2 separate regions of the Homo sapiens genome follow, and region 2 is linked to region 1. Evidence: fine-mapped expression QTL. A gene starts in region 1. The other region holds a variant in brackets. All regions are shown on one strand. Distances are between the middles of the regions. Region 1 holds the start of SMG1 (SMG1 nonsense mediated mRNA decay associated PI3K related kinase). Region 2 has its middle 23 kb from the start of SMG1.

Region 1 (2,902 bases):
TCCTCGTAATCTTCAAGTACTTTTGGTAACAATATTTATTTGCACAAGCGATATATAAAGACGTTTTCTTTGCAACATAAAATGATAGGTTATGACTCCTTATGCAGATACGGTTTAGACACTCGTTTAAGGAGCATCCTGGCCCAACTTTTAAAAAACGTGTGTGCATTCACGTTATGCATCAGATGCTTTAGGGAACTTTTTTCCCTGGGGCATGGGACACGTCATGGGGTAGACGGTCGGGTACGTCTCCTCTACCCAGCTGCTGCTTTGTTTTTTTTTTCTTTTTGAGACAGAGTCTTGCTCTGTCGCCCACGCTGGAGTGCAGTGGAGCCATCTCTGCTCACTGTGAGCTCCGCTTCCCGGGTTCACGCCATTCTCCTGCCTCAGCCTCAGGAGTAGCTGGGACTACAGGCACCCGCCACCACGCCCGGCTAATTTTTTGTATTTTTAGTAGAGACGGGGTTTCACCGTGTTAGCCAGGATGGTCTCGATCTCCTGACCTCGTGATCCGCCCGCCTCGGCCTCCCAAAGTGCTGGGATTACAGACGTGATCCACCACGCCCGGCCTTCTCTCTTTCTTTTCTTTTTTCCTTTCCTTTCCTTTCCTTTCCTTCCTTCCTCCCTTCCTTCCTTCCTTTTTCTTCCCTCCCTCCTTTCTCTCTCTCTTTTATTTTTTTGAGACAGAGTTTCACTCTTGTTGTCCAGGCTGGACTGCAATGGTCTGATCTCGGCTCACTGCAACCTCGGCCTGCTGGGTTCAAGCGATTCCCCTGCCTCAGCCTCCCAAGTAGCTGGGATTACAGGCGCCCTCCACCATGCCCGGCTAATTTTTGTATTTTTAGTAGAGGCGGGGTTTCTCCATGTTGGCTAGGCTGGTCGGGAACTCCTCACCTCAGACGATCCGCCCACCTCGGCCTCCGAAAGTGCTGGGATTACAGGCGTGATCCACCGCGCCTAGCCCCCAGCTTCTTTCACCAGCAGAAGGCGGGCAAGCCTCAGGGTGAAAGGACTTCAAAGCACATTTCACATTGCAGAGGACAGGGTTTGGTGATCGTGGGTACTCCCTTCCCTTCCATCGTTTAGTTTTTTTCATTGTGAAGAAATGGTAAAAGGTGCCAGGACTCGATGGGCACATTTCAGGTGGAGGTTGGGAAGGTGGATATCCACCTCTCGATCTTACTATTTTCACTTTCCACCCCACCCCGTAGAAAGTGGGAAAACTGGCGCACGTGAATCCAAGGGCACGCCTGTGTGCGCGCGCACCGCAGGGCACCAGCCCCCACCCACACCGCAGGTCCTTGATTGGACGCCTGTTTACACCTGACTGCCCGGCCCTCCGGTGCTTTCCGGGAAGCGTTTGGGAGAAAAGTGTGTGGCCGCAGTAGTGGAGATCCCCTGTCTTAGGATTCGTCACCGCTACGCCCAGACCTCTTCGCCGCCCAAGGGCCTGGGGACGTGGGGGGCGGGGCGGCCTGCTATCGACCCCGCCTCTCTCGGCTCCGCCCCGCCGACAGGACCCGCCTCTCTCCCCAGGCCCGGCGGGCGCCAACCCCGCCCCTCGCTCCCAGCATGCCGTGCGACAGCGGCGGCGCGGCGGGCGGAGCCGGGAGGCGGGGAAGCAGTGGCCGTGTGAGCGTGAGGAGCTGCCGCCACCGCCTGCTCCTCGTCGTCCTCGTCCTCCGGGGCCCCGGCGACGTGGGCCGCGCACGGCCCTGGAAAAGACGTCGCCTCCCCTTCATCCGCCTCTCTCTCACCGCGCCGCTCCCGCCTCCTCGTCCTGCGCTGCGGGCTCAGGCGGAACCCGGAACGGCCGTCCTCTTCCCCCGCCCTCCGCCGCCTCCTCCTTCTCCTCCTCCTCCTCCTCCTCCTCCTTCTCGGCTTCCTCCTCAGCCCCGGGCCGGAGCGGGGTGTCGGCGGCGGCCGGTTCGGGCGGCGACTCGCGCTTCTTTGGGCGGCGGCGCTTGGCCATGTCGTGTCGGGGAAGGTAATGAGCCGCAGAGCCCCGGGGTCTCGGCTGAGCAGCGGCGGCGGCGGCGGCGGCACCAAGTATCCGCGGAGCTGGAATGACTGGCAACCCAGGTGGGTGACCGGCCCGGGACCCCGCCCCGACCTCCCGGGCTCCGCCTCGGGCGGGCCGAGGCCTAGGGCCGCGGGGCTGGGAGGCGCGGCCTAGGCCCTCCACCCCTCGGAGCCGGGCGCGGCTTCCTGGGTCTCCTCCGCCCCGGCTGGGGGAGGAAGGCCGCGGGGAGGCGAGGCCTAAGTGCCTCCCCTCCCTGCTTGTTCAGCCCGGGGCTGGAGCCGAGACCCGGGGCTCCCGGCGGTGGCACTGGCCTGGGGTCGGGACCAGGAGGTGAGAAAGAGGCGGGGGTGGGGGTGGGGGGCATTCCAGTTACAGCCTCCCCCTGACCCCGAGTTGGGAGATGCTGAGAGTCCAGGACCCTCCCTGTTACTCATTCACTTTCTCGGTTCCCCACTCTTTCAGCCGCCACGTGAGAGCTCTTCTAACCTCTGTTCCTTTCTGTGACCCCCACGTGTTAATATTGAAAAAAACAAAACAAAACTCCAGCTAAGGCATTGCTCTGACTCTAGGCAGAACATTCATTAGTGGAGCATGAGATGAGATTGTGTGACTGTTGATGGGATCGACCCACGCTGGTCTTGGGCGATGGAAGTTTTCCCTAAGTGCAAGGCCGGTTACTCTGGTGAATCGTAATTCATACCTGGACACTTGAGTGAACTCTTTGGGCACCCACTTAGAAGTCTAGAGAATTTCCTCATTTATGGAGGATTTGATCTCAGACCGTTTTGGGGCTTAGTGAGATTTGAATATATTAGGAACATTAACTTTTTAAATAAATGTAGTTTCCTGTCTTTTTGATCAATGGGAGGGCAGCTGTGC
Region 2 (2,902 bases), 23 kb before region 1:
GGAGGCAGTTGTCCACGTGGAGTGGATAGATTGGAGAGCTGGCAAGTCCTGTGGCATAAATAGAGGACCACAGGCTGGCTACAGTTGGTAGACACTTCTCCCCAGGTGGCAAGAGAAGGATGGCCAATGCAGCGTCTGGACACTGACAATTTATACTTTCTTAAGTGAAGATCAGTGGCCTCCCCTTGGTCTTCCCTTTGGTAACACAGCTGCTGTCTATGAGGTCCCTCACCTCTTCATCAGCCCACAGGAAGTGGTTCTTTTTTTTCATCTATATAATTGTGTTTCTTTTTTAAGTTTTTCTTTTTCTTTCTCTTTTTCTTTTTTTGAGACAAGGTCTCTTTTTTTATTTTTTTATTTGTATTTTATTTACTTATTTATTTTTGAGACAGAGTCTCGCTCTGTCGCCAGGCTGGAATGCAGTGGTGCAATCTCAGCTCAATGTAATCTCTGCCTCCTGGGTCCAGGCGATTCTGCTGCATCAGCTTCCCGAGTAGCTAGGACTACAAGGCACGCACCACCACACTCAGCTAATTTTTTGTATTTTTTTAGTAGAGAGAAGGTTTCACCATGTTGGCCAGGATGGTCTCGATCTCTTGACCTTGTAATCCACCTGCCTCGGCCTCCCAAAGTGCTGAGATTACAAGCGTGAGCCACTGCACCCAGCCACAAGACAGGGTCTCATTCTGTTACCCAGGCTGGAGTGCAGTGGTGTGATCATGGCTCATTGCAGCCTCAACCCCCTGGGCTCAAGTGATCCTCCTGTCTCAGCCTCTCCAGTAGCTGGGACTATAGGCACACACCATCCCACCTGGCTAGTGTTTGTTTTTTTGTTTGTTTGTTTGTTTGGTTTTTTTTTTTGGAGATGGGTTATTGCTATGTTGCCCAGGTTGGTCTTGAACTCCTGGCCCCAAGTGACCCTCCTGCCTCAGTCTCCCAAAGTGTTGGGATTACAGGTATGAGCCACTGCACCCAGCCTATAACTATTTTTCTATTTATTTGAAGCACAGTTAAAAAAAAAAGGTATACTTTGGAAATTCAGTGACACAAGTTACACTGCCATAACTGAGAGATATCATACAGTTAAAAAAATTAAAAAGTCTCTCTGAACCTATTCTGGTTCAGGAGTCTGCTCAATAAAAATAATAATAATAGGCTAGGCACTGTGTGCTCATGCCTGTAATCCCAACACTTTGGGAGGCTGAGGTGGAAGGATTGCTTGAGGCCTATGTGTTCAAGACCAGCCTGAGCAACATAGTGAGGCCCCATCTCTACAAAAACATTTTTTAAATTAGCAGGGCAAAACTGGGTGTGGTGGTTCATGCCTGTAATCCCAGTACTTTGGGAAACCAAGGTGGGCAAATCACCTGAGTTCAGGAATTTGAGACCAGCCTTGCCAACAAGGTGAAATCCTGTCTCTACTAAAAATACACA[C/A]AAAAAAATTATCCGGGCATGGTGATGTACACCTGTGGTCCCAGCTACTCGGGAGGTGGAGGCAGGAGAATCGCTTGAATCTGGGAGGCAGAGGTTGCGTGAGCCGAGATCACGCCACTGCACTCCAGCCTAGGTGACAGAGAAAGACCCTGTCACAAAAAAAAAAAAAAAAAGGAAGAAAGAAAGAAGGAATGAGAAAAACAAAAGAGCAGGGTGAGGTTGTGTGCAACTGTAGTCCCAGATACTCAGCAGGCTGAGGTGGGAGGAGGATCCCTTGAGCCTAGGAGTTCCAGGTTGCAGTGAACTATAATACTCTCAACCTGGGCAACAGAGTGAGAACCTGTCCTCCCTGCCAAAATAATAATAATAATAATAATAATTGTTCTCCCATTTTGAACACTGCATTACATAATTTTACCTGCCCAAGGAAGTATTTCTGAAAGTGTGATCACCAGAACTGGCAGATTCAGCCACACTTCTTTTTTTTTGGGACGGAGTTGCGATCTTGTTGCCCAGGCTGGAGTGCAATGGCATGATCTCGGCTCACCACAACCTCCCCCTCCCGGGTTCAAGCGATTCTCCTGCCTCAGCCTCCTGAGTAGCTGGGATTACAGGCATGCACCACCACGTCTGGCTAATTTTGTAGTTTTAGTAGAGACGGGGTTTCTCCATGTTGCTCAGGCTGGTCGCGAACTCCCGACCTCAGGGGAGGTGATCCACCTGCCTCGGCCTCCCAAAGTGGTAGGATTACAGGCGTGAGCCACCGCGCCCAGCCACACTTTGTTAAAAATACAAATTCTTGGGTGGGTGAGACCACCCTTGCCAACAAGGTAAAATCCTGTCTCTACTAAAAAAAAAAAAAAAAAATTGGCTCATGCCTGTAATCCCAGCAGTTTGGGAGGCAGGAGGATCGCTTGAAGCCAAGAGTTGGAGACCAGCCCGGGCAACACAGCAAAACCTGGTTTCTAAAAAATAAAAATATAAAAATAAAAACTTAGCATGGTGGCATGTGCCCGTGGTCTCAGCTACTTTGGGAGGCTGAGGCAGGAGGATCACTGGAACCCAGGAGTTCAAGGCTACAGTGAGCTATAATGGCACCACTGCATTATAGCCTAAGCCAGATTCTCAAGCCCTACCCAGACCTGATGAGTCGGAAACTCAGGAGGGTGGATCCCAGCGATCTGTGTGGTTTTTTTGTTTGTTTGTTTTGCTTTGTGGGTTTTTGGGTTTTTTTGTAACAAACTCTCCAGGTAACTTTGTGTACACAAAAGTTTGAGAGTGACTGCTCTAGTCTAAGGCAGTGTATCTCAAACTTTACCTCACACTAGGATTTCTTTGGCAGCTTTGAGAAATTCTAATGCTCAGGCTTCAATCACACTTAATTAAATCAGAATCTGGTGATAGGACTCAGGCATCAGTAGTTTTTACACATCCCGCAGGTGATTCAAGTGGGCAGGAGAGTTTGAGA

The links. PIP is the estimated chance that this variant, and not a neighbour inherited with it, causes the effect.
Region 2: its variant is the best candidate, but not a certain one, in a credible set for the expression of SMG1 in whole blood (INTERVAL, PIP 0.78).

Annotation. Positions count from the first base shown.
Region 1 is chr16:18,925,130-18,928,031 of GRCh38, reverse strand. It overlaps SMG1 (SMG1 nonsense mediated mRNA decay associated PI3K related kinase), which reads left to right and starts at 1,624. Exons shown (of 63, transcript NM_015092.5): 1 at 1,624-2,082. The coding sequence starts at 1,991. It overlaps SMG1-DT (SMG1 divergent transcript), which reads right to left and starts at 1,845. Exons shown (of 2, transcript XR_001752094.2): 1 at 1,758-1,845. RefSeq lists enhancers at 531-1,144, 1,145-1,757 and silencers at 1,443-1,782, 1,813-2,402.
Region 2 is chr16:18,948,265-18,951,166 of GRCh38, reverse strand. No RefSeq gene overlaps it. Among named protein-coding and RNA genes, the nearest start is that of SMG1, 23 kb to the right of the region's middle. The variant C/A (reference allele first, on the strand shown) is at 1,435.